Regions from separate parts of the Homo sapiens genome. Here region 1 is linked to region 2. Evidence: fine-mapped QTL for protein levels in blood plasma. A gene starts in region 2. The other region holds a variant in brackets. All regions are shown on one strand. Distances are between the middles of the regions.

The links. PIP is the chance, under the fine-mapping model, that this variant and not a neighbour inherited with it causes the effect. Sun 2018 read protein levels with aptamers (SomaScan).
Region 1: its variant is fine-mapped to the plasma level of the NQO1 protein (Sun 2018, PIP 0.95).

The regions. Positions count from the first base shown.
Region 1 is chr16:69,563,753-69,575,056 of GRCh38, reverse strand. NFAT5 (nuclear factor of activated T cells 5) reads right to left here and starts at 9,091. Exons shown (of 15, transcript NM_138713.4): 1 at 8,683-9,091; 2 at 6,509-6,562. The coding sequence starts at 8,755. It overlaps MIR1538 (microRNA 1538), which reads left to right and starts at 9,189; the gene lies at 9,189-9,249. RefSeq lists silencers at 8,296-8,605, 8,626-8,895, 9,190-9,366, 9,086-9,465 and enhancers at 10,585-10,724, 10,127-11,023. The variant T/C (reference allele first, on the strand shown) is at 6,677.
Region 2 is chr16:69,721,338-69,732,641 of GRCh38, reverse strand. It overlaps NQO1 (NAD(P)H quinone dehydrogenase 1), which reads left to right and starts at 6,082. Exons shown (of 6, transcript NM_000903.3): 1 at 6,082-6,209. The coding sequence starts at 6,203. NQO1-DT (NQO1 divergent transcript) reads right to left here and starts at 5,915. Exons shown (of 2, transcript NR_186363.1): 1 at 5,467-5,915. RefSeq lists enhancers at 4,613-5,606, 5,815-6,074, 5,321-6,520, 5,607-6,599.

The DNA of each region.
Region 1 (11,304 bases), 160 kb after region 2:
AAAAGAAGTGATAAACATTCATGGGTGGGAAGCAATAATGATCATTACCTATTTACCACATAAATGTTAAAAATAAAAGAGAATGGGCTGGGCACGGTGGCTCATGCCTGTAATCCCAGCAGTTTGGGAGGCTGAGGGAGGCAGATCACCCGAGGTCAGGAGTTCGAGACCATCCTGGCCAACATGGTGAAACCCCATCTCTACTAAAAAAATACAAAAAATTAGCTGGACATGGTGGTGCGTGCCTGTAATCCCAGCTACTTGGGAGGCTCTGGTGGGAGAATTGCTTGAACCTGGGTGACAGAGGTTGCAATAAGCCAAGATTGTGCCACTGCACTCCAGCCTGGGTGACAGAGCACGACTCCGTTTCAAAAACCAAAAAAAAAAAAGAGAAAAGTATATATTTTTCAAAAGCTATTAAGAACAAATAAAAGTAACTGAACTCTCATGTAACAAATGTTTAGTTCAAATGATTAAATATATATATCCTTTATTACATCAAGTTTATTTATTCTGAAAGCTAGATCCATTATCTGTAGTTAACTCATAGAGGAAATCTCTACCTTTTCACTCAAGTACATAATTATCATTGGTCTTATACTCTGTTAGTTTATTTAAACTTGACTTTTATTAACACAAAAGCAAACAGAAGACACAGCAACCTTCTTTGCGTAACTTGAAATAAAATCTTAGCAACAGCAAGAAAAGACAATAATACAAATTAATAAGCAACATTTCTATTGAAAAATGTCTTTTACCTCTCTAAAGTTAAAAGGTCTATATCCTATGCCACTGAATAATCTTTATTTTTTTCTAGTTACCTGTTACTCTTAATATAAAATATACTCTGAGGAGTCAACTTTTTCATATAAAAAGTGTCTGTTTTGGCCGGGCGCAGTGGCTCACGCCTGTAATCCCAGCACTTTGGGGGGCCGAGGTGGGTGGATCACCTGAGGTCACGAGTTCGAGACCAACCTGACCAACATGGAGAAACCCTATCTCTAATAAAAATACAGTATTAGCCAGGTGTGGTGGTGCGCCCTTGTAATCCCAGCTACTTGGGAGGCTGAGGCAGGGAAATCGCTTGAACCTGGAGGTGAAGTTGCGGTGAGCTGAGATTGCACCATTGCACTCCAGCCTGGGCAACAAGAGCGAAACTCTATCTCAAAAAAAAAAAAAAAAAAAAAGTGGCTGTTTTTTATATATAATACTAATCACACTGGGAAATGTTTTTCTGTACTACCACTTTGAAATTTTAGGGGACTCCTGGAATAATCAGAGTCAAGAGTAAATTAAAATCAGGCCAAGAACCACTGGATTAGAATATGAATTTATATCCTTTTATTTTAAATAAGCAATAGAATTCCAGTATTGAGTGAAAATAATGAAAGCAGAGTTTAGGAAGGGACACAAAAACAGGTGGTAAGCAATCAGAAAGAGATGGATCTAAAGACAAGAAGCTGGGATGAACTAGGTATGACTTTTGACATGTTTGAACTTCATTATTTCCATAATACTTTTAGTTTACTAGACATGGATCCACAGAGATTATTAGATACTAAACAAGAAAAGAATTCAATAGATTATTTTTCATGTTAAATGTTTTCAAAAAATCCTTTCCAAAAAGGTATCTTTGTACATAAAATATTATAGGCATTTATGATCTATGATATAACAAGGGCCCTAGGAAGAAATATAAATCAGAAATATTCTATAAAGTCAATAAAACATTGCTACTATGTTTAGGATTTTCCATTTTTGCACTATGAAGTATAATTCTGGATGGTACCATATCAAATAGATTAGCAGTAGTAAAAAAAAAATCATAGTTTATTTTCTCTTAACTCATTGTCATATTTCACATTTTCTTTTAAAAATCTTCCGGTCTTAAATGTTTAATTTAAACAAAGATTGTGGCCGGATGCGGTGGCACATGCCCGTAATCCTAGCACTTTTGGGAAGCCATGGAGGGTGGATCATGAGGTCAAGGGATCGAGGCCACCCTGGCCAACATGGTGAAACCCTGTCTCTACTAAAAATACAAAAATTAGCTGGGTGTGGTGGCACGCGCCTGTAGTCCCAGCTACTCAGGAGGCTGAGGCAGGACAATCACTTAAACCCAGGAGGCAGAGGTTGCAGTGAGCTGAGATCATGCCACTGCACTCCAGCCTGGCAACAGAGTGAGACTCTGTATCAAAAATAAATAAATAAATAAATAAATAACAAAGATTATATCAGATCAGCATTTAGCTCTTATTTAACCAGTTCTTTCATTTGATATATAATCTCTTAACTCATGCTTTTAAAATCATTAAAATTGTTAAATCTATTGTTTATATTTATCTATTTTTCCAATTTGTTTATACTCTTATTTTTCCTGTTTTATCTATGATTTTTCTATAATCTTATATTTCTCTATTTCTAGAATGATTCATTCAGTTTCATTTCTATCTTAGTTTTTCATTTGCCAAAATGAATAGTTTTCATTATAGAATGTACAACAAATGGTGCCTTTTCTCTGCAGCTGAATTTTTTTCCCAGGCACTTCAAAAAGGAATCCTAGCCTTCGAATTTGAACTTACTAATGGCAAACAATTTTATTTAAAAAAAATATATAAACCATGTTCTTTAAAGATGGAAAATACAAAAATAGAATTGAAAAATAGAAAATCAGTGATGTATACTTTTGTTCAGGATTTTTGTAACACAAGTTACTTTGAATATAATTGTAACAGCATAATTTTTATTTACTTATTTTATTAAGAGTGTCACATGTTAATTATGGGGTTACCAGAAACATCATTTAATGGCCATGTATTATAACATTAATTAATTAGCCAGGACCCTTTTCCCATTGTCAGGCAATCATCGTATTAAATTTAAAAAGAGGTTGCAAGAAAGACTAGCACTGTTTTGATAGGAAGGTTAAATGCAAACTCAGTTGAATAGTAGACATTTTGAATCTACTTCTAAAGTTTAATAATACCCAAGCGCAGGCCAGGTGCGGTGGCTCACGCCTGTAATCCCAGCACTTTGGGAGGCTGACGCAGGCGGATCACGAGATCAGGAGATCGAGACCATCCTGGCTAATATGGTGAAACCCTGTTTCTACTAAAAAATCCAAAAAAAATTAGCCGGGCGTGGTGGCAGTCGCCTGTAGTCCCAGCTACTCAGGAGGCTGAGGCAGGAGAATGGCGTGAACCCAGGAGGTGGAGCTTGCAGTGAGCCGAGATCGTGCCACTGCACTCCAACCTGGGCGACAGAGCAAAGACTCCATCTCAAAAAAATAATAATAATAAATAATAATAATAATACCCAAGTGCAGGTTTTCCAACCTTGTTTCCCCCCAAAAAAAAAATTTAAATTTGGAAAACGTACGTTCTATAAAAAAATTAAATTATATCACACCAATTACTTAAATTCCCCTCACTCTGGGCCAAGTTTTTAAATACTATTTATAGATGAAAATCTAGACTACTGATGTAAAACATGCATACATAAATATTACTAGACAGAACTTGATAGTATATACCATTGGGAGTTAGTACAGCACAGTAGTCAAGAGGCTAGGCTAAAGTGAGACTACCTGGGTTGGAATTCTGGTTCTACAATTTACTAGCTTGTGACTCTGGGTGAGTTATGCCTTCAATTGCTCATCTCTAAAGTAGGATAATAATAACCATCTCAAAGGGTAGTCAGGAGAATTCGCTGAGTTCTTATTTTGTTTGTTTGTTTGTTTGTTGTTGTTTTTTTGAGACAGAGTCTCACTCTGTCACCCAGGCTGGAGTTCAGTAGAGTGATCTTGGCTCACCACAACCTCTGTCTCCCAGATTCAAGGGATTCTCCTGCCTCAGCATCGCGAGTAGTTGGTATTACAGGTGTATGCCACCATGCCTGGCTTTTTTTTTTTTTTTTTTTTTTTTTTTTAGTAGAGATGGGGTTTCACCATGTTAGCCAGGCTGGTCTCAAACTCCTGACCTCAAGTGATATGCCCACCTCAGGAGTTCTTATTTGTAAAGTTCTTGGCACACAGTAAACACTCTACAGCTAGCATTTAGTTTTTAAAAATTTTTTAACTTTAGCTAACATTTACTGAGCACTTAGCATGTGCTAAATTAAATGCTTTACACGAATTTGCCTCAAATAATCTTCACAAAAACCTAGGATGAGGCACTATTATTGCTCCCGTTTAAAGATGAGAAAATTGAAGCAAAAAAGATTAAATTATTAGGCTAAGGCCATACAAGTAAATGTCAGAGCAACAATATGAACTCCAATCTAGCAGCATGGCCTACAATTTCAACATAGGTTATAGGATATACTATATACTAGAAGCGGTAGCCTCCTGCAGCACTCTGTCTTGAAAAGAGGGCAGGAGAGTCACAAGAGACTTTGCTGAAATAAACTAGAATATTCCAAGAAATAGTTTATAAACTATACAGAGTAATTAAAAATTAATACAATAATTATATTAACAATTAAATTATATCAATAATAATTAATATAAGAAAGTCACTGTAATACAGAAATACTTATGTATGAAGTGATCTGATGTTTGATATTTGTTTTAAAATAATCCAGCTTGAGAGAGAAGAAGGGATAAAAGAAGCAAGATTAGATACTGGTTAAACTGTGGTGATGGGTATATGGGGCTTATTTTATTCTCTCTACTTTTATGTATTCTTTAAAATGTCAATAATAAAAAAGAAATAGCAATGAGGTGGCACAGATTAGACACTTCATTACAGAAGCAAACAACTTTTTTAAGACACCCTGTCTCAAAACATTTTAAAGGGCATGACAGAATTGATACTTATACATGTTATATTTTATATATAATTTCTAAAAGGGTAGCCTTACTTTAAATGAGAATCCCCTTAACTAAAATGAAAAATTAACGAAAGTATTTAGGCATAAACATGTAAATAAACATGCTAAATGGTTGTCTGTATTTCCATCAGCTCACTAAAAATATTTGCTTAAATAATTAACACTCATTTTTTTCTTCATGTCTTTCTCCTCCCTGATCATCTCTATGATTATGACACTCTATGGTTTGTTGTCCAGGAAATGAGATGGGTTTGTACAGACAAATATGTCTCTACAACATGGTCACAAATTGAATATGAATAAAAACCAGAAATCTGCTTCACTAAGAAACACTGCTAAAAATTTCTCACTTCAAATTGTAGTTTTAAAAATATTTGATTTTCATACTAATGTATATCTATGGGCTTCTTACACGTACAAAACAAATTTAACCAATTATTTATTTGAGAACATTTTATATGCTCTAAATTATACTGTTAAAAAAATTTAGCTGATACTAAAGGAAAAAACTAACATTTATTAAGCTAGACGCTATGCTAGGCAATTTAATACACATTAGCTCACTAAATTTAAGAGACAGCTACATTTTAACAGGAAGAATATTAAAGTTTAGAGAGGTAAAATCACTTGCCCGAAGTCACAGAACTAATAAGGAGCTAAGTTGGTATTCAAATTTAAGCTCAACTACAAAACCCACTTGCCCCCCACTATCCCGGACTACCTCCAAGGGAGGCAAAAATCTTCTCAAGTCAAACTTAAATATTTAGGGCCTTTTTAAAGTAGACCATAAAATGTTTGTTACTGGTTACATGTGTATTTCACGGTGGCCGCTTTGCATAAAGAGCACTAACTGAAACGCAGAAAGTATTATTTCTTCTACTGTGGGACTTTTTTTTTTTTTTGGTTTCTTAATTTCAGCCTTAGTTTCTCTTCTCTACAATGGGGAAATTAGTACCTTTGCTGTCCAATTCCAAAATTATAAAGATTTAAAGATGATATATGTGAAATCACTTCAAAATCTACAAAAACACAAGACTATTTTATGTCTTAAAATGTTAAAACACACACACACACAAAGCCAAAAGTTTTCTAAAGTAAGTGTAAGCTGTTTAAACTAATCTACAGACTCTATTAACATTTCCAGAACTTTCTAAACCCCTTTCTTCTAAGCATAGCTCAATCATCATCGCTATTACTTGGCTTTCCTTACCCTTAAGTATAATGCAATAACAATGGCATCAATGCTTTTGCAATAAATAATTAACATATTTTGAAATGCTCAGCATATAAATGTTCTAAATTCTGAATTTTCAAACTAATTATGTGTTTGGTGTCACTCTTTTATATTCATGTTAATGTTTGGGCCTTTTCACATTCTATTTTGTGTATAAAAAGCTAAAATGAAGGTCTGGAATTCTAAAGTAGAACACTCAACACATAATTTAAAATGATTTTTTTTTCAATGTTTCTCAAAGCAGATAGAACAGCCAACAAGCACATCAAACGCAGCAACAAAACCCATTGAAACATTCAGCTGCTCTAAAAGAAGGATCAGACTCTTTAGGAGAAAACTACATTGTGTGAGTTTGCAAAGTTTCATACTTTCCCATTTAAACTCCATTTCAGAGAAAGCCTTTGCATACTAACACAATATGCTTTAAAATGGTACTTTGCTGACCTTCCAATAGTCCAGCTCTATGAAAATTCTGTGATGGGTGTAACTTCAGAGAATCTGAAAAACACAAAAAGCATTAGGTACTTTTTATGCTGAATGAGGAAAAAAATGCCAAGGATAGCATACATCTCTTATATAACTGCAATGTGTGTGTGTGTATATATATATATA[T/C]ATACACACACACACACACACACACACACACACATATATATATATACACACATACATTTTGAAACGGAGTTTCGTTCTTTTTGCCCAGGCTGGAGTGCAATGGTGCGATCTCGGCTCACCGCAACCTCCGCCTCCCGGATTCAAGTGGTTCTCGTGCCTCAGCCTCCCGAGTAGCTGGGATTACAGGCATGCACCACCACGCCCGGCTAATTTTGTATTTTTAGTAGTGACGGGGTGACGGGGTTTCTCCAAATTGGTCAGGCTGGTCTCAAACTCCCGACCTCAGGTGATCCAACTGCCTCGGCCTCCCACAGTACTGGGAATACAGGCGTGAGCCACTGCGCCCGGCCAACTGCAGTGTATTTTTAAGCGCTAAAGCCCATATTTGTGAATATATTCCCCGCAAAAGAGGCTGAATTGTCTCTACATTGGTCTCGAAGCTAAACTTAGATTTTCATAAAGTATATGTTTCATGGAAAATTATCTGATGATTACTCCCCAAATGGTGTTAATGTCTTGGCTATTTTTAGCACTCAATTCTAACACATTAGCCCTGCTCTAAGAATCATCTCTTGATATGTCTCTTTTTTTTTTGACATTCAAAACTACAATATTTCTAAAGTACCTCAGGTAATGTTGCCCGAAAAACATCCTACAGGATGGTGGCTGCCAACTAAAGTCATTGGAGCAACAGACAGTGGCTACAATTACTAAGTAGGACTCTGTGTACAAAATCAATGGTCAGTCTGTAAAGTCCAGCACCTTTCAGAGTAAACCATCTCACTCTGATTCACTTAAACAATTTAGATACACTAGTAGGAAGGTGAAGTCCCTTTTTTGGAGGGGGTGGAATAAGCAAATGGATGGATACATCAAACCAAAAGCAGAAGAAACACCTACATTTTTTTTTACACGGTGAAATGAATAGTTAACAACCCAGTTATGTCTTTTGCCCCCTCCCGGTGGTTTAAAAAGCGTAAAGAGCGCAGTGGGAATATTTTGGTTTTGAAGCCCCTTGCACAGGGAACCTGTTCTGACACATTCTTGTGGTGTCCAGTAAAGGAATTTCACCTGAGTAGGGATCAGCTCCAGTGCTAATATTTCAGATGCTGGGAATCCCCTGCAGGCCTTAGCCAAAAGAGTTCTTAAATGAAAAGTCTCTGCCTGAGCTCCCTCCCTGCAACCAGCCCTTGAACGGAAAAGCAGAGAAAATTCTCAAAGGACAGCGTCTGTGCCTGGGCTGGTCCTCCTGGGAGAGGAGAGGAATAAAACCAATCCAGAGAGGGCACCCCCATCTTTGTAAAGGAGAAGGGAGAAGTAATTAGAATGCCACGGAGGTGGGAAGAGAAAAAAAAAGAAAAGAAAATTCGGGCCCTTTCCATCGGGCCCTTTCCAGCAAGAAGATGACGAGGAAAGGAAGAACGCCTGGTCGAGGGGGGCTGTCCCAACATGGGGAGGGAGTGGACTAGGCCGGAGGGAGAGGGGGTGGAACGACGGCGCAAAAACAAGCTGGAAAGGGAGGAAAATGGTGACCCTGCACTCAGAACCGGCTCCAGGCCACGCCGCCCGCTTGGGGGCAACTTTGCTGGGGAGGAGGGTCCCGGTAAGAGAAGACGCGGCGCCCCGATCGCGGTGGCCCCAGCGCGGGGCCCAGTCTGGGGCCATCCCCGAGCCCGGGAGGCCGGGGCCGGCGGCTCGCGGAGCCTGGCGGGGCCGGACGGGCTGAGAGCGGCTAGAAGCGACCGGTGCCGCAGAGCCCCGGGGGCCGACGGAATCTGGGCCCCGAGCGGCCGGCGGCTCCGCGGGGGAGGGGCCGCCACTGCTCCGCCCGCCCCCTCCACCGTCACCCCGATCCCTTCGGCCTCTGCCCGCTCCGGCCAAAGAAGCCATGGGGGTCGCGGCTCAGCCGCCCCCGGCGGGACGGGGACCCCTCGCCTCCCCTGGCCCTGTCTCCCTGTCTCCCTGTCTCCCCGCCCCCACGCCCCACCCCCCACAGCCTGACTCACCTCGCGAGTAGAGGGACTTGGGCGATTCCAGGTCTAGGTCCGCGCTGAGCAATGAGATGAAGTCCGAGGGCATCGCAGCTCGACCCAGCCCGGCCCGAGGGCAGCGGGAGGGGGGGAGCGGCGGTGGCGGCGGCACCTCCTCTCCGGGACCGCGGGCACCGAACCGGGGGCGGCGACGCGAGGGCGGCTGCCGCTGCCTCCTCCTCGAGGGTAGTGACTTCCACTGGGCCGAGGACCGAGGAAACGATGGCGAGGTGGAGGGGGAACTCCACGGGGACTGATTCTCGGTGACCAGGAGAGGGGTTCAGGACGGGGAAGGGGAAGGGGGAGAGCCAAAGGGTCCGTTTCGTGTTTCTCCTCAGCGAAAACTGACGGTCGCCGCCACCGCCGCCGCCGCTGACAGGAATCTGAGCCCCGCCCCCGTGGGGCACAGCGCAGGCGCGGAGGGGGGTGCCCGGGAGCGCGGAAGAGCCGTGGCGGCCCCCGGAGGGCGGGGAGGCGCGCCAGGGAACAGCAGCAACATGGGCCTCGCTTCCTGCCGGCGCGGCCCGGGCTGCTGCTGTTCCTGAGCCGGGAAAGGGCCCCGCTGCCAGGGTGGGAGGGGGGGAGGCTGGGAGGTGGCCGCGCGCTGGGGCCCCGGGGAGGGAAAAGGTATTTGCAACGACCTGGTGGCGGCGAGCCTGAGGCGGCCGGCCCCGAGCAGAGCTGAGCGCAGGAGACAGAGCCGAGAGAAGCGAGAGGTCTGCGCGAGCCGGGGACGGACCCCAGAGGCCGGCGGCGGACGGGCCTGGCTGGCCCGGGGTCTCGCAGGGGACCGGAGTGTCATCGCCCGGACAGCCGCCAACCCTTTGGGGTTTGCATAGCAGTGTGTACAAAGGGACTGTCAAACCCATTTCTTAATTAGGAAATGGCAAACCGTATCCCAAAAACCTCGAGTTATTGATTTTTAATTAAAGTACTTTCTCCCCTAACACTCCCCTCCTACCTTTGGAGGCTGAAATTTTTTTTAAAAAAAACGATCTCTCTGATTGTGCTGGGGCATCCGGGTTATTCGGAGTGGGACATAGAAGACAATTAAAAAATTGGATCATGTGAATCCACCTGGCTGTTCTAGAGGAAAAACAGGTAAAAAGCAAACCTCAACGCTACTCTTCCAAACAGTTTTTCTTTTTTCTGTTTCTTTTTTTTTCCTTTTGGACTAGGCAAAGATGGAGGAAGAACGCATTTAACTGAGTTTTTGCTCTTGCTTTTCTGTTCGTGGAGCCAAAAGTTTCCGTTGCAAAAATTTAAAATCCTCACCCACACCGCAGAGCGTTTTCTGATTCTAATAGACTTCTGAGAAATTTTTAATCAAGTTATTGAAATATTACCTGGAGTGCAGGGTGTGCATCTTGGGAAGTAATTTTAATCTTGTGTGGAATATTGATGCCAGTAGCCACGTGGGCATGGTTTTTAAGCTATTCGAATGGTTTCGTTTTTTATCTACAAGGATAGTTACAACTCATGAAAATCAGTCTGTTGTAATATGTGTATGTGTATATATATGCACACATATATATACATACATATATACACACATATATACATATATATATAATTATAGAGACTTTTTCCCATGAAATTGAGCAGTTCTCGGGACTTGGAGTGCTAGGGTTGGGGTAAGAAGCTCTCAGCAAAGGAGGGCCCAGTACAGATGTCGCTGAGGCAAGGCCCTTTACAAAGTTTTACCTGTAGACCTAGAATTTAAACGTGTGTCATCAGAGCTCACCTATCTTTCATCTCAACATTTGATTCAGGTTGCCCAGTTGTCTTCACTGAATTGTGTGTAGTAATCAATCCTGTGAACATTTTTCTTTTGTCGGAGGTTCAGAAAGCTTTTCAGAGCCACCCCAAGATGGCAAAGCAGAACAAGAAACTGCCCTCAAATTGCCATCTCTGCTGTATGGTGTCGTGACAAGTCCCAAGGGAAGTCCCTTCATAACTGATAAGAGCCCCACTCATTTGAGAGAGAAAGATTGAAACCTCACATTGCCCAACAGGCCAAGGCCTACTGAAATCCTATAGCTTCTGAATTGGAGTAAACACACCTCTTGGAGACCCCCCATACGCCACCCATTAGTCAGTATACAGGGTAGCAGAGAGGAAATGCGATTCACCACCCGATACTAAGAAAGTTGACTGAATCACTCTGAGCAGATCCCTTTTCCCCAGACCGATGTAATCACTTAACAAACTTAGGGTATAGGAAATCCCCAGTACGGTTCTGACCCTAATTAACTAGTCAAGAACTGGCAAGGCCTCTTCCTTTTTCTGTGAATCCTTCTCTGCCCTTTTGTGACCTTTTTATTCCCCGTTGAGGCTTTGTTGTATATGTTAATCAGATTTCCCCTGATTAGGTAAGAGCAAAGTGAAGAGAGGCCCACCAAAGTGTGGCTTGACCTAAACTGCGAATTCCCTGAGAGGGATTCTGTGGGCTCAGGCCTCACTTACCTCATTAGGTCCTGCATTAAGCACGGATTATATCTAAATAGGTATTTGAAAAATCAGTGTCCACTCCCACCCCCTGCACCTGTCTTCTTACAGAGATATATTCTCTTTTTTGTTTGTTTTTTTAAGATGGAA
Region 2 (11,304 bases):
ATCTTGTTAAATCTCTTACATTCTTTAACACAATTAACTGATGGTTAATTTTACATGTCAGCTTGACTGGGCAAGGAATGCTCAGATAGCTGGTGGAACATTGTTTCTAGGTGTGTCTGGGAGGGCGTTTCTGGGAGAGAGATGAGCATTTGGATCGGCAGGCTGCATTAAGGAAAATTGCCCTCACCAAGGTGGGCAGGCATCATCCACGCCACCAAAGGCCCGAGTACAATAGAGAGGAGGAGGCCGGGTAGATTTGCTTACTCTTTTCTTGAGGTGGGACATCATCTTCTCTTGCTCTCGGGCACTGCTGTTCCTGGTTCTTGGGCCTTTGGACTGGGAGTGGCACTTGCAACGCTGGCTCCCCTGGTTCTCACTCTTGAGTTTGGACCAAAACCACACCACCAGCTTTCCCCAGCCTCCTGCTTACAGACAGCAGATTGTGTGACTTCCCAGCCTCCAGAATCAAATGAGCCAATCCCTCATAAAATACAGCTTTTTTTTTTTTTTTTGAGATGGAGTCTCCCTCTGTTGCCCAGGCTGGAGTGCAGTGGTGTGATCTCGGCTTGCTGCAACCTCTGTCTCCAGGGTTCAAGCAATTCTCCTCCTGCCGAGTAGCTGGGCCTATAGGCATGTACCATCACACCTGGCTAATTTTTGTATTTTTAATAGAGACGGGGTTTCACCATGTTGGCCAGGCTGGTCTTGAACTCCTGACCTCGTGATCTGCCCGCCTGGGCCTCCCAAAGTGCTGGGATCACAGGCACATGCCACCACGCCCAGCTAATTTTCATATTTTTAGTAGAGATGGAGTTTTGCCATATTGGCCAGGCTGGTCTCAAACTCCTGACCTCAAGTGATCTGCCCGCCCCAGCCTCCCAAAGTGTTGGAATTACAGGTGTGAGCCACCACACCTGTTTGTTTTTTTTTTTCTTTGAGGCAGGATCTCACTCTGCCACCCAAACTGGGGTGCGATGGTGAGATCTTTGGCTCACTGCAGCCTTCACTGTCTGGGCTCAAGCAATCCTCCCACCTCAGCCTCCCAAGTGAGGGGGACTACAGACGCATAATACCACACGGGCCTAATTTTATTTAAAATTATGTTTTGTAGAGATGGGGTCTTGCTGTGTTGCCCAGGCTGGTCTCAAATTTCTGGCCTCAAGGGATCCGCCTGCCTTGCCCTCCCAAAGTGCTGGGATTACAGGTGTGTATTAGTCAGGTTTCTGTAGAGGGACAGAAGTAATAAGATAGACATATGTAGTATTAACTCACACAATCACAAGGCCCCACAATAGGCCATCTGTAAGCTGAGGAGCAAGGAAGCCAGTCCGAGTCCCAAAGCTGAAGAACTTGGAGTCTGATGTTGGAGGGCAGGAAACATCCAGCACAGAAGAAAGATGTAGACTGGGAGGCTAGGCCAGTCTAGCCCCACTTATTTTTTTTTTTTTTTTTGGTGAGGTGAGTCTCTGTCACCCAGGTTGGAGTACAGCGGTGTGATCTCGGCTCACCGCAACCTCTGCTTCCTGGGTTCAAGCTATTCTCCTGCCTCAGCCTCCTGAGTAGCTGGCATTATAGGCATGCACCACAACACCCAGCTAAATTTTTTTGTATTTTTAGCAGAGATGAGTTTTGCCATATTGGCCAGGCTGGTCTTGAACTCCTGACTTCAAGTGATCCACCCGTCTCGGCCTCCCAAAGTGCTGGGATTACAGGCGTGAGCCACGGCACCAGGCCTAGTCTAGTCTTTTCACGTTTTTCTGCCTGCTTTATATTCTGGCCGCACTGGCAGCTGATTAGTTGGTGCCCACCCAGATTGAGGATGGGTCCGCCCTTCCCAGTCCCACTGACTCAAATGTTCACCTCCTTTGGTAACGCCCTCACAGACACACCCAGGATCAATACTTTGCATCCTTCAATCCAATCAAGTTGACACTCATTATTAACCATCACAAGGTGTGAGCCCTGCACCCAGCAATATATTGCTTTTTATATATTTATAGAAATTCAATTGGTTCTGTTTCTCTGGAAAATCCTGATCAATATACACTCCTTCATTTTTCTTATAGCACTGAATTATGGGATAAACCAGGTTGGTTGTCCTGTAGAATGTCCCACACTGTGATTTGACTGATGTTTCCCCATGATTTTAACTTCTATCTCCTGTGTTTCCCAATCAACCCACTTGGGTTTTTGTTTTTTCTTTTTGTTTTTAGATAGGGTGTCACTGTGCTGCCTAGGTTGGAGTGCAGTGGTACAGTCACAGCTCACTATAGCGTCGACTTCCCAGGCTCAGATGATCCACCCATCTCAGCCTCCTTAGTAGCTGGATCCACAGGTGCACACCACCACACCTAGCTAATTTTTAATTTTTTTAGAGATGGCAGAGGTGGGGGGGGTTGCGGGGGGGTCTCACTATGTTGCCCAGGCTGGTCTTGAACTCCTGGGCTCAAGCGATCCCCCTGCCTTGGCCTCCCAAAGTGCTGGGATTACAGGTATAAGCCACCGCACCTGGCCCCAAACAACCCACTTTTTTTATTCTCTCAGTTTTTGCCCTTATTTAATCCCCCACTCTTACTTCAGCCTCGTTAGGAACTTGAGTCTCTGGACCCCTCTACTTTTTCTCTGCCAATAAGCCCTTTCATAATGTTCGTCATCACTCCAACCACTCTACTTTTTAAAAATGGACTTTGTTGAGGAATAACATGCATACAATAAAATGCTTGTATTTAAAATGTACTTTTCAGCGGATTTTAATAAATACATACATCTGTGTAACTACCGCCACCATCAAGTCGCTCTCTTCTTCACAGCCCCCACTCTGTCTCCTCTCATCATGCTTTCCCAACCTACATCAATCCCTCAGACTCCCCCTCTCCTGGCACGCCTGGCTGCAGACCTGCAGGAGAGAACACACACGCCGACCTGCTGGAAACCTGTACATCAGTACTGCCCTCCCGAGGACCCTCGGTCTTTGTCCAGGCAGCAGTGCTCGCCCATGCTCCACAGCAGCTTTTTCTTTTTCTTTTTTTCTTGAGATGGAGTCTCGCTCTTGTTGCCCAGGCTGGAGTGCAGTGGCACAATCTCAGCTCACTGCAACCTCTGCCTCCTGAATTCAAGCGATTCTCGTGCCTCAGCCTCCCGAGTAGCTGGGACTGGAGGCGCCCACCACCACACCCAGCTCATGTTTTTGTATTTTTAGTGGAGACGGGGTTTCACCACATTGGCCAGGCTGGTCTCCAATTCCTGAGCTCAAGTGATCCACCCGCTTCAGTCTCCCAAAGTGCTGGGATTACAGGCCTGAGCCACTGTGCCCGGCCAGTAAGTTTCTTTTTTTCTTTTGAGACAGGATCTCCCTCTGTTGCCCAGGCTGGAGTGCAGTGGCATGATCTTGGTTCACTGCCACCTCAAATGTCTGTCTTTACCACTGTGTAGTAACAAATTTGGCCAGGAGTGGTGGCACATACCTGTAACTCCAGCACTTTGGGAGATCAAAGCGGGAGGATCACATGAGCCCAGGAGTTTGAGACCAGCTTGGGCAACATAGTGAGACCCTATCTCTACCAAAAAAATAAAAAAAAATTAGCCAGGCACGGTGGCATGCACCTGTCATCTCAGCTACTCAGGAGGCTGGGGCAGGAGGATTGCTTGACTCCAGAAGGTCGAGGCTGCAGTGAACTATCATCATGCCCCTGAGCCCCTAAATCCCAAATGATAGGAGTGTCCATCTTATTCATTGTGGGCTTCTCAGACCACTCCTGATGGTTTATGCTAATGAGATGACTTGGGATGGGCCCCTATATAGTTCATGTTAACAAGATGACTGAGGATGGGAACTGGCCATGCTGGAAACCAACGACCGAACACGACACTTGAGCTTTGTGGCTTTGAGCCCCACCTCTGGATGGGTCAGGGAGACTGGTGATTGAGAAAACAATCTCACTAGAAGAGTGAGAGATAGAATAGCCAGCACACTGCGGCCTCGATCTGAACCAGCTCAGGTCTTTCCAAACACTAGTGACATGTGGCTATCTAAATTTAATTAAAGCCAGGCGCAGTGGCACATGCCTGTAATCCTAGCACTTTGGGAGGCCGAGGTGGGCAGATCACCTGAGGTCAGGAGTTTGAGACCAGCCTGGCTAACATGGTGAAACTCATCTCTACGAATAATACAAAAAGTGGCTGACTGTGGTGGTGCATGCCCGTAGTCCTAGCTACTCAGGAAGCTGAGGCACAAGAATTGCTTAAACCCAGGAGATGGAGATTGCAGTGAGCCAAGATCCTGCCACTGCACTCCAGCCTGGGCGACACAGTGAAACCCCGCCTCAAAAAATAAATTTTTAAAAAATTAATTTAATTACAATTAAAACTTCACTTCCTCAGTCCACTGGCCACTTTTTTTTTTTTAATTTCCATTTTTTTTCTTTTATTGAGTCCACCACTGCGGCCTTGAATTCCTGGGCTCAAGCGATCTTTTTGCCTCAGATCCTGAGTAGCTGGGACACAGGCGCCTGCCACCACGCCTGGCTGCTGGCCACATTTCCAGTGCTCAATAGCTACTTGAAGCTTGTGGCTACCTTACTTGGGCAGCACAGATAGGGAAAGTTCTATTGGACAGGGCTGCCTACCTAGCCCTTTTTTAAAACGTCCTTTTATACTATTTTGTCAGATGGGGTCTCACTTTGTTGCTCAGGCTTTTCTCAAACTCTTGGGCTCAAGTGATCCTCCTGCCTCAGCCTCCCAAAGTAATTTGTAAATACGTGTAAATAATATAGTCCTCTCTTGTTGCATCAAAATGAATGCAAAAATGTCACGATGGGGCCGGGCGCGGTGGCTCATGCCTGTAATCCCAGCACTTCGGGAGGCCGAGGCGGTAGGATCACCTGAGGTCGGGAGTTGGAAACCAGTTTTCTGGTGCCTCCTTAACTTTTGCACTGGAGGGACAACGGAAGGGCCCTGTGTCATCCTCACCTCCCCCATCTGTGATTCTTCTGATGGTTAATTACCACTTTAAAGCTCTAGTTCTTTTTCCTTCACCTACTGAGAGTATATCTCCTTCTTTACAGTAACTTTTACTTTATAGAGTTTTTTTTGAGACGGAGTCTCACTTCGTCACCCAGGCGGGAGTGCAGTGGCACGATCTCGACCCACTGCAACCTCCGCCTTCCGGGTTCAAGCGATTCTCCTGCCTCAGCCTCCCGAGTAGCTGGGACTTACAGGCGCCCGCCATCACGCCCAGCTAATTTTTCAGTACAGACGGGGCTTCACCAGGTTGGCCAGGCTGGTCTCGAACTCCTGACCTCAGGTGATCCACCCACCTCGGCCTCCCATATTGCTGGGATTACAGGCGTGAGCCACCGCGCCTGGTCCCGTTTTGGCTATTCTTTAATATGCTTCCCTATAACTGCTATCTCCACACCAGCCTTGCCTTAGCTCATGGGAAACAAAACCAATTAGTTCCCCCATTACCTGCCTTGAGGAGCAGGGGTGGTGCAGTGGCATGCACCCAGGGAAGTGTGTTGTATGGGCCCCCAAGTGCAGAATCTGAATCTTGCAAAGGAAGAAACAAATTCGTCTCCACGGAGCATGTCTCCCCAGGACTCTCAGCCTTCCAAATCCGCAGTCACAGTGACTCAGCAGAATCTGAGCCTAGGGCACCACAGTAATCCGCATCCGGCTCTTTTTCTGCTCCATTTCGTGCCAAGGCTAAAAGGGCATGCCCACTTGATCCCTGGACTCTCTTGGGACGACTTCCACCCTGCATCCTCTTGCACCTCAGGGCACAGTGCGCAGATGGGCTTGCCTTAGCACCCCCAGCCAGATTTTTGAGGCCTCTGTCACACACACCCCTACAATCCCCTCCCCCAGCCCCGAGAGACTTTTCTTGACTTCCACCAGTTGCTCCGGCGGGTGAGAGTGGAGAGGCCCCTCCTTCATCCCCCAGGCTCCCTCCCTTCCTGGAGCTGCAGCCTCAGCATCCTCCGCCCAGCACCCCAGGATTCAGGCGTTGGGTCCCGCCCTTGTAGGCTGTCCACCTCAAACGGGCCGGACAGGATATATAAGAGAGAATGCACCGTGCACTACACACGCGACTCCCACAAGGTTGCAGCCGGAGCCGCCCAGCTCACCGAGAGCCTAGTTCCGGCCAGGGTCGCCCCGGCAACCACGAGCCCAGCCAATCAGCGCCCCGGACTGCACCAGAGCCATGGTCGGTGAGTGCTGCAAAGGGCGGGGTGCTTGGCGGTCGTCTCTCGAGCACTGGTGCCTGTGGAGGAGGTTGTAGGGGCTTGGCCCTGAATTTTGTTCCTTGACTCAAAACCCACAAAGGGAAGAGATTAGGGACCTGGGATGAGCCTTGATCGGACTCCGGGAGAAGGAGAGCTTCTGTTTGTATCCGGTGTCGCGGATCCTTCCTCACTCCACCCCACGAACTCTAGTGGGCATTTAGGAGAAACTTGACCTTGGAAGCAGAAATTCCCTCCAAAACTGTGGTCAGAAACTGGCCGTCAGAGGCCAAATCAGGCTTACGGTCACAGCCCATACCTCTTTTGGTCTATAGTATCTAAAACACTTTGAAATAAGTTGCTAACATTAAAATGGGTGATTTCACTTAAAAATGTGGATTCCGAGCTTCTGAAGAAAATGAGAATATCTGGCGATTGGTGGACAGGAGTGGAGGAAACTGATGCCTTTGGTTTGACGGAGACCAGAACCGGCTCCAGGCTGCCAGGCACAGGTTTTGTTTTGTTTTGTTTTGTTTTGTTTTGTTTGAGACGGAGTTTTGCTCTTGTCGCCCAGGCTGTAGTGCAATGGCGCTATCTCAGCTCAGCGAAACTTCCGCCTCCCGGGTTCAAGCGATTCTCCCATCTCAGCCTCCCGAGTAGCTGGGATTACAGGAGTGCGCCATCATGCGCGGCTAATTTTTATATTTTTAGTACAGACGGGTTTCGCCAAGTTGGCCAGCGCGGTCTTGAACTCCTGACCTCAGGTGATCCACCCACCTCAGCCTCCCCAAGTGCTGAGATTACTGACGTGAGCCACCGTGCCTGGCCTTGGGAGGCATTTTCCATTGAGGCCCTTGGATTAGGCAAACCTGATCAGATCGTACTGGATCCGTTTCTAGTATTGGGTCCACTTCAGTGATAGAGCCTTCCCACTCGGCCATCGACCCTAGGGGAACTCAGAGGTCACCCCAGCTCCACCCAAGGCATAAATAACCAGCTGAGACAACTGCAGGGATTGAGAGCTGTTTCCCAAATAATCTCACTCTGAGATTGGACAGTACTAAGATTTAGAAAGCTGTTGCCTCATCTGGGGCAGAATCCTGTGTTTTGTAATTTCCTTCCCTGTGGACCTGGTCCTGCCTCTAAAAATGCGCCTGTACACAAAGAAGCCCATCTTGGTCAAAGTGAGTGGAGGAACAGACTGCCCTTGCAGTTGACAAACTGAAATTATCAGGATCTCTGAGAAAGGGACTAAGCTGGGGATTGGTAGCCCAGCATGAGTTACTGGCAGAGACAGCAGGGAATAGATTCTGACAGCTGAGAGGCTTGCCGCATACACGGTGGTTGCTGTTTCCCTTGTATTTCATTCTTCAGCGTCGAGGCACTGGCACCCTCTCCTCCAATACTAGGGCAGGAACTATTTCCTGACTTTTCAATCTTACAGAATGTTCTGTATTTACGTGTAGCTTAAACACAAAAAAGGGCGGTGGTAATGAGGTGAAAAGGGAAGACTTGGATCTTGTATAATTAGTTTTAGCTGTACCCAGCTAACCAAATCTTGAGGTTAACTAAAGCATCCAGGTTTTTTGTTTGCAACTAATAGATGCATCTGATTTGCACTCATGTTCCCTGGAGCACTCAAGTGAGAAGAGAAGGCAGAAGGAGAATGCATGAAACTGATACAAAGGCTTATCTTTATCATACTTCTTTTTTTCTTTTTGAGACAGGGTCTTGCTTTGTTGCCCAGGCTGGAGTGCAGTGGCATGATCAGGGCTCACTTCAGCCTTGACCTCCTGGGCTCAAGTGATTGTCCCATCTTTGCCCCCGAGTAGCTGGGACTACAGGTGTGTGCCACCACACCCAGCTAATTTTTTTTGGTCAGAGCAGAAGAACTTGAAACCCAGCTAATTAAAAAAAAAAAAAATTTTGGCTGGGAGTGGTGGCTCATTCCTGTAATCCCAGCACTTTTGGGAGGCTGAGGCGGGAGGACTGCTTGAGGCCAGGAGTTCAAGACCAAGATTCAGCTCAAATGGCAAGCTCCTCTGAGGGCCTTTCCGAATGGGCCAGCCCTGAGGTCCTGAAGTTTTCCTCTGTTGAACTTTTTGAGATGGAGTCTCACTCACTCTGTTGCCCAGGCTGTAGTGCAGTGGCGTGATCTTGGCTCATTGCAATCTCCACTTCCCAGGTTCAAACGATTCTTGTGCTGCAGCCTCCCAAGTAGCTGGGATTACAGGCGCCCACCACCACGCCCAGCTAATTGTGTATTTTTAGTAGAGACGGGGTTTCACCATGTTGGCCAGGCTGGTCTCTAGCTCCTGACCTCAAGTAATCCACCCGCCTCGGTCTCCCAAAGTGCTACGATTACAGGCATGAGCCACCACACCCAGCCTTCTGTTGAACTTTGTCCCTTACCTCTCCTAACACACTAATGCCATTGTACCCTGAAGAGGTTATCCGTGTGTGCATCTTGTGGCCTCTCTCAGGGTAAACTCTAATAGTCTAACTCCTCCCAGGTCATGTTGCTCAGCTAGTTAAGTGGCAGGAAGGGAAAATGAACCCTCCAGGGCCCAGAAAACTTTTAAATTGCCTATTCACAAGCATCTTTTTGTTTGTTTGTTTGAGACAGAGGCTTGCTCTGTTGCGCAGGCTGGAGTGCAATGGTGCGATCTCGGCTCATTGCAACCTCCGCCTCCTGGATTCAAGCAATTCTCCTGCCTCAGCCTCCCGATTAGCTGGGATTACAGGCACCTGCCACTACACCTGGTTAATTTTTTTTTGTATTTTTAGTAGAGACGGGGTTTCACCATGTTAACCAGGCTGGTCTCTAACTCCTGACATGAGGTGATCTGCCCGCCTCAGCCTCCCAAAGTGCTGAGATTACAGGTGTGAGCCACCGCGACCCACCCACAACCTTCTTTTGATCATTTTTCTTTTGAGTTGTTTTGGGGATCTACCTATTCCAGGTACTGCACTTTGATGGTTATATTTGTTGCAAATATATTATTCCTGCTTGTGTGTTGCCTTACATGAAAAATTGTAAAGTCACAGGCCTGCTTATAGCTATTAGAGTCTGAGCTCCTTGAAAGAGCAAGAGATGGATATCCTGATTTGCTCATTTTCTGAGAAGTGCCTTGACTGTCTTACTACTTAGAAAATGCTTGTTAACATTGATGAGAAGTCAATAAAATAAAAACTGTTGGCTGGGCGCTGTGGCTCACGCCTGTAATCCCAGCAGTTTGGGAGGCCGAGACAGGCGGATCACGAGGTCAGGAAATCGAGACCATCCTGGCTAACACGGTGAAACCCCGTCTCTACTAAAAATACAATTAGCCGGGCGTGGCGGCGAGCGCCTGTAATCCCAGCTACTCTGGAGGCTGAGGCAGGAGAATGGCGTGAACCTGGGAGGCGGAGCTTGCAGTGAGCCGAGATCGCGCCACTGCACTCCAGCCTGGGCGACAGAGCGAAACTCTGTCTCAAAAAAACAAACAAACAAAAACTGTCAGAGCGGCGATCAGTAAACATTGATAAGACTAATGGCAAGGTAAGTTACAAAGAAAATGCCTGTTAGAGCTGAATATGCTCACTTCCCTCCCAATCATGTTAAATCCATGGGTTAAAGAGGTAGGAATTTGTTGAGGCAGCCTCAGAGCTTCCTTTTCCTTTTTCCAAGCTATCCCAAGCAAGTCAATCACTTCCAGCGCATTGAAATCATCACCAGACACCTATTCCACTGAGTCTTAGTTTTAAGAGTCCAAAACCCTAGGACCAAGTTTGGAAATCCCCTGGTTTGGCATATTGGGCCCTGAAAGTTACACTTCGCTGAATTTAGCCCAAGAGGCACTTGCCTTGCTAGATGTGGTCAATAATAAAAGCAGGAAGAGAGCTTAAGGTTTAAATGTGCCTTTCTAGTTATTTTAGTTATTTCTAGTTATTCAGATGGTGCAAAAAAGTTGCAGATGCCGGCTGGGCGCGGTGGCTCACGCCTGTAATCCCAGCACTTTGGGAGGCCAAGGCAGGTGGGTCATGAGGTTAGGACATCGAGACCATCCTGGCTAACATGGTGTCTCTACTAAAACAAAAAATACAAAAAATTAGCCGGGCGTGGTGGCACGCGCCTGTAATCCCAGCTATTCGGAGGCTGAGGAAGGAGAATCGCTTGAACCCGGGAGGCAGAAGTTGCTGTAAGCCGAGATGGCGCCACTGCACTCCAGCCTGGGTGACAGAGCAAGACTCCATCTCCCCCGCCCCCACCCCCACCCTGCCAAAAAAGTTGCAGATGCCTTCTCTCCCAGCTCCACCCACTGTTCATGGTAGGGTATGAAGTAGCAGCGCACATTATCAGGAGCAACTGTGGGGGTAAGCGTCCTTTCTCTGGCAATTCGCTCTATGCCCTTGTACGCTGTTGTTTGTATTTCTCACTGTTTGTAAGTCTCACTGTCGCCCAGGCTGGAGTACAGTGGTGTGATCACGGCTCACTGCAACCTCCACCTCCCTGGCTCAAATGATCTTCCCACCTCAGCTTCCTAAGTAGCTGGGACTACAGGCACACACCACTACGCTCAGCTAATTTTTTTTTTTTTTTTTTTTTTGGTAGAAACGGGGTTTCTCCATGTTAGCCAGGCTGGTCTCAAACTCCTGGGCTCAAGCAAGCTGCCTGCCTCGGCTTCCCAAAGTGCTGGGATTACAGGTGTGAGCCACCACGCCCAGCCACTCTCTGTGTTTTTAAATTATTCCAGCTTCACCACTTAATGACTACACACTTGGGTAACTTGCTTCTCTCCTGTGCCTCAGTTTTCTCATCTGTAACATGGGGCTACTCATGGTATTGACCTCATAGGGTGTGTCTCAGTCTATTTTGTGCTGCCATACATAATACTTGGGACTAGGTAGTTAATAAAAAAGAGAAATTGATTTCTCACAGTTCTGGAAGCTGGGAAGTCGAAGATCAAGGTGCTGGCAGGTTTGGCTGTCTGGTGAGAGCTGCATTTGGAGGAATGCTGCGTCCTTACATAGACGGTGGGAGGTAGAAGGTGGAAGGGCAGGTGAGCCCCGTGCTGGGCGAAGCCTCTTTTATGAGGGCCTT